Linked DNA regions of Homo sapiens: region 2 is linked to region 1. The links come from fine-mapping of genetic effects on gene expression. A gene starts in region 1. The other region holds a variant in brackets. All regions are shown on one strand. Distances are from middle to middle. Region 1 holds the start of ENTPD7 (ectonucleoside triphosphate diphosphohydrolase 7). Region 2 overlaps DNMBP (dynamin binding protein).

Region 1 (5,379 bases):
TTATATCTAATAAGCCAACATGAGAGATAAAATGGAAACATAAAAACTGTGCTCAACTGAAAAGAAGAGGGAAAAAGAGGAAAAAGAACAAGAACAAATGTGACAAATGAAAAACACATAGCAAGATTAAAACTAAACATACTAAATAATCAGATTAAATATAAATGGCCCGAACACCCCAATTAACTGCAGAGATAGTCAGATTGGATAAAAAAACAAGACCCAACCAAACACTGACTACAAGAAGCCCACTTATATAAAGACACCAATAGGCTAAAACTAAAACTATAGAAGAAATATCTGTCATGCTAATGTTAATCAAAAGAAAGTTGGAGTAGCTATATTAATACCAGACTAGTAGATTTCAGAGCAAAGTATATAATCAAGGATAAAGAAAATCATTTAATAATGATAAAGGGGTCCATTCATAAAGGTATAATACAGTCCTAAACATTTATACACACAATAAGTTTCAGCCCACCAAAACAAGAAAACACAAAGATGCCTTTCATGCAGTATCAGTATTCCTGTACCAAACTGCATATTGCCAAAATAGGGCTTAAAATCTTCTTTATGTAATAAATGGCATGCAATTTTACTAATAAAAGTACAGTATCACCCAAAAGGGTCAAAGTCAGTAGTGTGTTAAACAGCTTATGAAAATATTTATGACTTGAGTGCCAAAATCTAAAGCTGACTCACCTTTCGTATTGCCTATCTCGTGGTAATGAAGCACTCCAATGTCGAAAGTCTATGATTAACATAAGTAAAAGGAGACAGGATATGAAGAAGAGTCCCAGGAATGCCACCCGCTGACGGAGAAATGGACTCACTGTGGGCACAGTGAAGTACCAGGAGGCTGGGCAGAGGTAGGAAAAACTGATCCTGAAATTAGACAAACATTAGTAAGTCTGAAACATTTCTACAACTGAGTGCTTAAATATCGTTTTAAAATTGGATAAAACCCTCCTAATAAAGGCAAAAATCCATGCCAACAGAAGTCTAAATGTTCTTGTCATCTCTAATTTTAGAAGAAGCTCATGGTGCTTCTACTATATATATCAGAAAAGCCTTATCTGCCCTTTTTCCAAACTGCACTTTGAGTGCAATTCAAAGACTTAATCTCATGTTAGTGAAAAGATCACCAGTCTCCCTGGGCAACCTCATAACATTGGAGAATCAGAGCAACTACAGTATTCCCAACCAAGAATTCTGTCAAGAAACAGGATGGTCAGAAAATTTATTTAACTGATTTTAAAAATGTTTTACCAGATTATACAAGCACATAGTAAAAGACAAATCAGTTTAAAAGGATATATTGTATAGTGAAAAGTGATTCTTGCCCTGACCCCACAATCTCTCAGAGGCAAACATTACTACCCAGTTGCTGTGTAATTTTTTTTTTTTTTGAGATGGAGTCTTGCTCTGTTGCCCAGGCTGGAGTGTAGTAGCGCAATCTCAGCTCACTGCAACCTCCACCTCCTGGGTTCAAGCGATTCTTCTCCCTCAGCCTCCCCAGTAGCTGGGATTACAGGTGACTGCCACCACACCCGGCTAATTTTCGTATTTTTAGTAGAGACCGGGTTTCTACTTGGCCAGGCTGGTCCTGAACTCCTGACCTCAGGTGATCTGCCTGCCTTGGCCTCCCAAAGTGCTGGGATTACAGGCGTGAGCTACTGCACCTGGCCGTTGCTGTGTATCTTTCCAGGGATATTCTACGGATACACAAGCATAAATATACACCAATATATTTACAGTAATATATCTCTGTGTGTGTGTGTGTGTGTGTGTGTGTGTGTGTGTGCGTATCCATTCCCTCGGTTTTACACAAATGGTAGTCCACCATACCTGCTGTTCTGCATCTTTCCCCCACTTTATTTTATAACTTTCCCTTATTGGTGCATGTAGATCCACATTAATATTTTTTAAAAGCTTCAGGTTATTATAATGTATGGATAAGTGTATTCATCTGTGAAGTTCACTTTGTATATTGATTCAAAAGGACCTCGGTCTGTCTGCTTTTAAAGTTCACTGCAAACAAAAAACAAAAAAACTTCTTTGTTTAACCTCCTCAAGTGGCACCTAGCCTTGCTCAGATGCGAATCTGAATCAATGTTACAACCTTGCACTTTACAGAGCTGAGCAAGCCGACTCACTCTACCACTCCTGGTCTATGGGCTAGAAACTATTATTTATCAGCCCTCGAAATAATACAACTTTGATCGTCTCTGCATCCAACTAACCAGAATACAAAGTCCAAGTGCAGCTCCAGGGCAAACCTCACTTGGGACAGCCTCCCAGGGCCCCCCAACCTGCCTGCCATCCTCTGCCGTGCTCCCAGCCGGAGGGAAAGTGTGCAGCCTTACCTAGCCATGGGTTCCCTTCGGTGGTCTCAACGCCTGTCACCTTCTTTTTCTTTTGCCCTGAGAAGGTGGCCTCCTTGTCCCAGGCATCTCCTACGTCTGCAGCCTAGAAAGATTTGATTTCAGGCTTCTGTCCGACTGAGCCCACGAGACAAACCTGCACGGGAATTCCACGGCTCCCACCTCCTCCCCAGGCTCCCGCTCCGTCTGCTCTGGTTCCTCAGGCCCAGGGGACCCTACCCGGGCATCCTGGGAGCGGGGCGTTCTCGTGGGCCAGCTCTGTCCTCTAGGAACCGGTCGTCCCCAGGTGGCGGGGTGTGGGTCCCGCTTCCTCTCCCCGTCCCTCCGGGTCCCACAGCCCTCTCGCGCCCACACTCACGGGATCAAGCGGCCCGCCGGTTCCTTCGGCACCTCTCGGTTCAGTCCCGAGCTGCTCCCCGCGGCCCCTTGCCCAGCCGGAAGGAGGGCCCGGCCGGCGGCGGCGCCACGTCCCCAAGGAAACCGCAGGGAGCCAATGACTGACAGAAGACTCACGGAGGGGCCGGCTCTCCACGAGCCGAACCGGGGGCGAACCAGCTCGGTCAGCAGCACGTCCGTCCGCCAGGGTGGCCAATCCCCTAGAGCGCTCGGCCTCTGATGCCCGCCCCGGGACTTTGAGCCGCGCCCAATCGGAAAGGCGTCGTACCGAGGCTCCGCCTGCAGGGCCCGCGGAGAGCTCACAGGTGAGTGGCGCTGGGCGGCCCTGTGCCCGCTTCCCTCCCTGGGGCGCGAACTCTCGGCTGGTTGCTTTCTCCACGGCCGCTCCTGGGACAGAGTAGCTCCGGTAGGTGGGTTCAGGGTGTTCGCGACCGAAGCGCATCCCTTGCCCATAACCTATTGTTGGTTTTGTGCCCACTGACCCTCCCTACCAGAATGGCAGTTCTCTCACCTTAAACCTTCCCTATCACCTCCCAAACTGATGCCCCGACCTCACTGTCTTGCCCCGTGAGAAAACAGAAATCGAAGACAATGACGTTTACACCAAAGTGCTTATGTCCATTCATTCATTCATTGAATGTCTGCTTATGCCAGTCATCATGAATTTCTGTGTCGCCGCCCTCCTTGACCTTACAGTAACACAAAGGAAACGACGCGCGCGCGTGGGTGTGTGTGTGTTTCTTTCTTGCTTACACCAGCCGTTATCTCATTTCCAGGAGGACGGCATAAAGTCCAAGCTCTTTCCAACGTGGCACATCCATTGCGCCCCACGATCCGCCCTACCGCCGTCCTCTGCCGCTACTTGCCTTCCTTACCACGCTCCAGCAACGCGTCCTGTTTTGCTCATTCTGCCCCTCCACCTGCCTTGAATAACCGTCCCAGCCTCTTAGCCAAATCACCTCCTACTCATCCCTTACCACCCATCTTAAGGGTCGCCTTCCCCTAAAAGCCCTACTTGACCTACTACACCTTTTTTATACATGCCTATTGTTTCACTTAGCACGTTGAATTACTATTATACGTATATGTCTGTCTGTCTGTCCCACTAGACAGAATATCCTTGAAGGCAGGGACTATTTGCTTCCACATATTCCCAATACTGGCCACTGCCTGGCAGATAAAACACAACTAATGTATAATTAATAAGCAAATGAATGAATGGGGGGGATCGGGGAGGAAGACCACCCAAATGCTTTATTTATTCAAAGCTTACTATGACAAGGGAGTCAGTCACCATCACTTGCATTTGGCCGACTCAAAGCCTGTCAGGACATTAGGAAAACTACTTACTTACTTAATTACCTACAGGGTCTCACTCTGTTGTCATCCAGGCTGGAGTGCAGTGGTGCGATCGTGGTTCACTGCAGCCTCGACCTCCTGAGCAAGCGATCCTCCCACCTCAACCTCCTGAGTAGCTGGCTCTACAGGCACGTGCCACCATGCCCAGCTTATTTTTTTTTAATTCTTTGTAGAGATGGAGTCTCACTATGTTGTCCAGGCTGGTCTTGAACTCCTGGGCTCAAGCAGTCTTCCTGTCTCAGCCTCCCAAAGTGCTGGGATTACAGGGATGAGCAGCTGCACCTGGCCAGGAAAGCTTAGTAGTGAACAAAAAGGGAAGGTTTCATGTATACTCTGACTTGAGGGTATTAGCATGGGAAAGCTGGAGGTGGGCTAACAAAAGTAGTGTCTCTTAGGTGATTGGTTTGGGGTAGGTAGCATATTTGGCTGTCTTTAGTGGGTTCTGAGTTGAAGAAAGGAGGCGGCAAAAAACAGGGAAACTGAGTCATTGACCAAGTCCTGATTATTCTCGGCTGGTTGCTGTAGAGGTTGTGGGTCAGAGTTCTAATTGTCATATAAGATCTAGCCATTGTCCAGTTTCTATATTCAGTTCTCATGACTATTGTTTTTTTGGCTCCACTACTCTCCTAACCTTGTTGAACTTCCTAATTTGCCTTTCTTCTTCAATTCTCAGTTCTCAGTTTTTTTTTCTCTGTCCCTCAATCCCCACTCTGCTTCAAGTGTTATATTTTATCTGGACCCCCAGAAACCACATTGAATAGAATAGTTGCATAAAGTTGGGATTAACCACAACATTATACAGATACCAGTTATTTTTATTATTTCAGAACCCAGTTCAGTTCCTAGAACAAAATAGATATGGAAAGAACTAAAATAATGTTTTGGAGTAATTTTTAAAAATTTCTTGAATTTACCTTCTGTGAGTTCTAAGTCTAATCTCTATACATATATATTTCAAACTTTAGTGTTCCACAAAATAGGTGTTTTTGAGTGGAAGTATAATTCCTATTTTTAAAATAGTACTTAATTCCTATGGTTTATGAACTATATTAACTTATAATTCAAAAGTTCATTGAAACATCCTCTAATTTACATTTCATAACTACATCATAAAACAGAAAAGACCTACATTTTAATCCCAACATTTTTTCATTATATTTTCTTTGTAAAACTTTCTTTGTCAGTCTGGTTTGGACAATACTTCCTTCAATAAATCCATATGCCCTCAAGCATTTGTCAA
Region 2 (5,379 bases), 230 kb before region 1:
GAAAGATTGATTAAGTCTTTTATCCGAGACCTGTCTCTCTACCTCCAGCACATCCGGGTGAGCATCAACATCACTGTAGTTAGATTAACATACGATGTAATTCTGTCCCCTTTCCTGTTCATCAGTCATATTGTTTAATGAATGCTGAGTAATCTGGACTCAAATTACTATTATGCCCCATCATACTTTTTGTTGAGATGCCAGTAGGTTATTTAACAGTAATAGCATTTAGATCAATGTTGTCACATTCATTTCAAAGCAGCCCAACTTTTTCCACCCTCTTTTTGGTCTTCATCACCCTTCATCCCACACACACCTTATTTTTCTTTTACTTATTACAGTTCATTTTATCAAAACCAGTTTGAAAATCAAATATTGAATGCAAAAGCTAGGAAGCTGTAAACAGGAAACGTAAACGAGAAAGAACAAGCAGTGAATACGAGTAAGAGAATGTTCCTATGTGGTATGCTTTCTGATCACTTCAGCTCCCAATTTATTAATATTCAGTTGCTATAATAAGGCCTCTAAAGGTATTAGAGCCATAAACAGCTTTGAGATCTAGAGAAGCCAAGGAGATCAGGTGAGCCTAGGTCTTTCCTTGCCTCAAGCAATGCTTCCTCCCTGAGGTCAGAACCAGCACCACCATCCTTTCTATTCTTGTCTCTAATTTCTCTATTGATTTAATATAGGATGCTGTGAGTGTACTGGATACTCCTGTCCCTCTGATCTTTTAGAGACAGAGTCTCTTTCTCTCACCCAGACTGGAGTGCAATAGTGCCATCATAGCTCAGTGCAGTCTCCAAGTCCTGGGCTCAAGCAATCCTCCCACCTCAGTGGCTGGGACCACAGGTGCACACCACCACACCTGGCTAATTTTTTTAAGCAGAGATGAGGTCTTACTATGTTGCCCAGGCTGGTCTTAAACTGGCCTCCCGAAGTGCTGGGATTACAGGCATGAGCCACCATGTCCAGCCTGAATATCTGATCTTATAAAAGAATTTCCTTAAAAGGGATCCTTAACTTTTTTAAAAAAAAAGTTTTTAAACTGAATAAAATGGTATAAAATTTAAAGGTACCAAAGGGCTAAGTAAAAATAATTATTCCTCCTACCTTGTCACCTTCTGTAGAGACAGTCACCATCCATTAAGTTCTTCCCTCCTATCAGAGATTTCATGTGTGTGTAGGTGGGAGATACACTAGCATCTTGGGTTTCACACTTAATCAAATTTCAGAAGTGATGTAGCCATACACACAGAGGCCCATTGTTCTTTTTTCCTTTGAGACAGAGTCTCACTCTCGCCAGGCTAGAGTGCAGTGGCAGAATCTCAGCTCACTGCAACCTCCGCCTCCTGGGTTCAAGTGGTTCTCCTGCCTCAGCCTCCCAAGTAGCTGAGGCGTACACCACCACGCCCAGCTAATTTTTGTATTTTTAATAGAGACGGGGTGTCATCATGTTGGCCAGGATGGTGTCGATCTCTTGACTTCATGATCCACCCACCTTGGTCTTCCAAAGTGTTGGAATTACAGGCGTGAGCCACCGCGCCTGGCCTTGGTCCATTGTTCTTTACAATTGCGTAGTATATCACTGTGGACAAGTCATAATATATTTAACTAGTCCCCTGTTGGCAGATATTTAAATCGCTTGTAGTTGGAAAAGATTAGAACTAGTCATACAAGGAATATCCTTGTGGATACATCATTTTCTGATCTATGTGAGTCTGTCTGAAGGCCAGTGTACTTCTGAGCCAAATCTTGTGGCAGTATAAATTTTGACAACTACCGTTAAATGTCAGAGATGTTGTAAAGGTGAAAAGTTCCACAAGCAATATCCCTTGCTAACTCAGTGTTATCAAAACCAGTGGGTTTTATCTTTGCCTGCAAGAGAGGTAAAAAATATTTCAATATAGTTTAAATTGTCATTTCTTATATTAGGAATGGAGTTGAGAATATTCTTATATGTCTATATCATTATATTTTTCTGTGACTTACCTATATTCTGGCATCTTTATCAGTTTGTTGATCTCTGTATCTATTGGAGGATATAGTCCTTTGTCTGAGATGGTTTGCAGATGTCCTCCCCCTACCTCAGTTTATTGACTTCTGAGTTTGCTTAAAGTGTTTTCTCCGCTTAAGAGTTTAAACTTGCATTTTATGGCTTCTTAGTTTTGTGTCATATGTAGAAAGGACTTTGCTGTTCCAACATTTAAAAATTCTCGTGTTTTAGTATTTTTTTTTAATTTATTTTTTTATTGATAATTCTTGGGTGTTTCTCACAGAGGGGGATTTGGCAGGGTCATGGGACAATAGTGGAGGGAAGGTCAGCAGATAAACAAGTGAACAAAGGTCTCTGGTTTTCCTAGGCAGAGGACCCTGCGGCCTTCCGCAGTGTTTGTGTCCCTGATTACTTGAGATTAGGGATTGGTGATGACTCTTAACGAGCATGCTGCCTTCAAGCATCTGTTTAACAAAGCACATCTTGCACCGCCCTTAATCCATTTAACCCTGAGTGGACACAGCACATGTTTCAGAGAGCGCAGGGTTGGGGGTAAGGTCACAGATCAACAGGATCCCAAGGCAGAGGAATTTTTCTTAGTGCAGAACAAAATGAAAAGTCTCCCATGTCTACTTCTTTCTACACAGACACGGCAACCATCCGATTTCTCAATCTTTTCCCCACCTTTCCCGCCTTTCTATTCCACAAAGCCGCCATTGTCATCCTGGCCCGTTCTCAATGAGCTGTTGGGCACACCTCCCAGACGGGGTGGTGGCCGGGCAGAGGCGCCCCTCACCTCCCGGACGGGGCGGCTGGCCGGGCAGGGGGCTGACCCCCCCACCTCCCTCCTGGACGGGGCGGCTGGCCGGGCAGAGGGGCTCTTCACGTCCCAGTAGGGGCGGCCGGGCAGAGGCGCCCCTCACCTCCCAGATGGGGTGGCTGGCCGGGCGGGGAGCTGACCCCCCCACCTCCCTCCCGGACGGGGCGGCTGGCCGGGCAGAGGGGCTCCTCACTTCCCAGTAGGGGCGGCCGGGCAGAGGCGCCCCTCACCTCCCGGACGGGGCGGCTGGCCGGGCAGGGGGCTGACCCCCCCACCTCCCTCC[C/T]GGACGGGGCGGCAGAGACGCTCCTCACCTCCCAGACGGGGTCGTGGCCGGGCAGAGGCGCTCCTCACATCCCAGATGGGGCGGCGGGGCAGAGGCGCTCCCCACGTCTCAGACGATGGGCGGCCGGGCAGAGACGCTCCTCACTTCCTAGATGTGATGGCGGCCGGGAAGAGGTGCTCCTCACTTCCCAGGTGGGATGGCGGCCGGGCAGAGACGCTCCTCACTTTCCAGACTGGGCAGCCAGGCAGAGGGGCTCCTCACATCCCAGACGATGGGCGGCCAGGCAGAGACACTCCTCACTTCCCAGACGGGGTGGCGGCCGGGCAGAGGCTGCAATCTCGGCACTTTGGGAGTCCAAGGCAGGCGGCTGGGAGGTGTAGGTTGTAGCGAGCCGAGATCACGCCACTGCACTCCAGCCTGGGCACCATTGAGCACTGAGTGAACGAGACTCCGTCTGCAATCCCGGCACCTCGGGAGGCCGAGGCTGGCGGATCACTCGCGGTTAGGGGCTGGAGACCGGCCTGGCCAACACAGCGAAACCCCGTCTCCACCAAAACCAGTCAGGCGTGGTGGCGCGTGCCTGCAATCGCAGGCACTGGGCAGGCTGAGGCAGGAGAATCAGGCAGGGAGGTTGCAGTGAGCCGAGATGGCAGCAGTACAGTCCAGCTTTGGCTCCGCATGAGAGGGAGACCGTGGAAAGAGAGGGAGACGGTGGGGAGAGGGAGAGGGGGAGGGAGAGGGGGAGAGGGAGAGGGAGTTCTAGTACTTTTATCATTCCATTTTTTAAGATTTTAAAATCTTTTTTTAAGTTTTAAGATTAAATCATTGCTCTGTCTGGACTTTAGTAAATCAGGTTTGAAGCAGGGATTCAACTTTATTTTTCCAGCTGGTTACCCAGTGGCCTATCATTTATTGAGTAAATAGCCAACTTCCACCCTTGTGTTTTAAAAATGTAACTAGGGCCGGGCACAGTTGCTCATGCCTGTAATCCCAACACTTTGGGAGGCCGAGGTGGGCAGATCAGCTGACGTCAGGAGTTTGAGACCAACCTGGCCAACGTGGTGAAACCCTGTCTCTACTAAAACTACAAAAATTAGCTGGGCATGATGGCAGGCACCTGTAATCCCAGCTACTCAGGAGGCTGAGGCAGGAGAATTGCTTGACGCCGGGAGGTGGAGGTTGCAGTGAGCTGAGATCATGCCATTGCACTCCAACCTGGGTGAGAGTGAGACTCCATCTCAAGAAAAATAAAACACACAATTGGGGCAGCTACTGAGTATGTTTCTTTGTCTTGCTGCTTCATAGGACTTTCCCCTAATATCCCTCTCATGCTGATATCCCTCTGTTGGCCATTTTCTCCCCAGGTTTTCTAAAGTGTGACACTATATACCTGAGCCCTCAGCCCTTAAAAGGCTCACCTCCATAGCAGTGACTGATACATTTTGGGTTGGGATATATGTAATGTTGAAAACCATCTGATGGAAGTATCAATTTAGTTCTGACTGCTGACAGAAATTGAGAGAAAATGTTGAATAGTTTTGTCATGCCACAAAATGAAAAGCCTGCCCAATAATAAAATTAGATTGACTAACAGCGAGAAAACCAGCAAGAACATAAGCTGAGGGCCATTGGCTGGATAATTTGGTATCTACATTGGCATATGGGCTGATATTTGGGGACTTTATAACATTCCTTTAAAAGAAAACAAGAGGACATCACTTTTCACATTAGATCTCCCACTCAAGAGGAATTAGCAACATTCCCTGGGTTATCTTACTGACGAAGCCCTGGCTTTATATATACAGATATAAATATTAAAGACAAAAGGTCTAAAAATGATATAAAAATAAAGCATCAAACCAATGTATGAGGCACTGATGGTTTTGCTTAGGGACTTTGCTTAGGAATGGGAAACCAGGTTGTGATGATCAGTAGCATGGCAGGGCAGTTGTCTTTGAGACGGTGACAGCATGAACCAAGACTTGAGGAAGGAGAGGTAACTGGTCATTATCCTAATCCTATAGGAATCATCTTGGTTCTAATTTGATAATTTACTTTTTGTTAAATTAAGAATCCCTATTAGGGACATAGGGGAATGCCAAAGAGATGATAAAAGCCCTCAACAGTTTTTTAAGAATTAAAAGTCTTAGACTTTTCTCTTTTTGCCCTTGAAATAGACTAATGGAGTATTTAGTTTGTTTGGGTTACAGCCCAGCATTGTAGAGATGGGGTCTCACCATGCTGGCCAGGCTGGTCTCGAAAGAAAGCCTGGAAAACCAACCT

What was found.
Region 2: its variant is fine-mapped to the expression of ENTPD7 in tibial nerve (GTEx, PIP 0.97).

What each region holds. Positions count from the first base shown.
Region 1 is chr10:99,656,952-99,662,330 of GRCh38, reverse strand. It overlaps ENTPD7 (ectonucleoside triphosphate diphosphohydrolase 7), which reads right to left and starts at 2,822. Exons shown (of 13, transcript NM_020354.5): 1 at 2,743-2,822; 2 at 2,367-2,469; 3 at 703-885. The coding sequence starts at 2,374. It also overlaps a transcript of SLC25A28 not described here. RefSeq lists silencers at 2,594-2,813, 2,934-3,143.
Region 2 is chr10:99,889,624-99,895,002 of GRCh38, reverse strand. DNMBP (dynamin binding protein) reads left to right here. Exons shown (of 17, transcript NM_015221.4): 11 at 1-57. Among named protein-coding and RNA genes, the nearest start is that of DNMBP-AS1, 35 kb to the left of the region's middle. RefSeq lists an enhancer at 3,016-3,875. The variant C/T (reference allele first, on the strand shown) is at 3,097.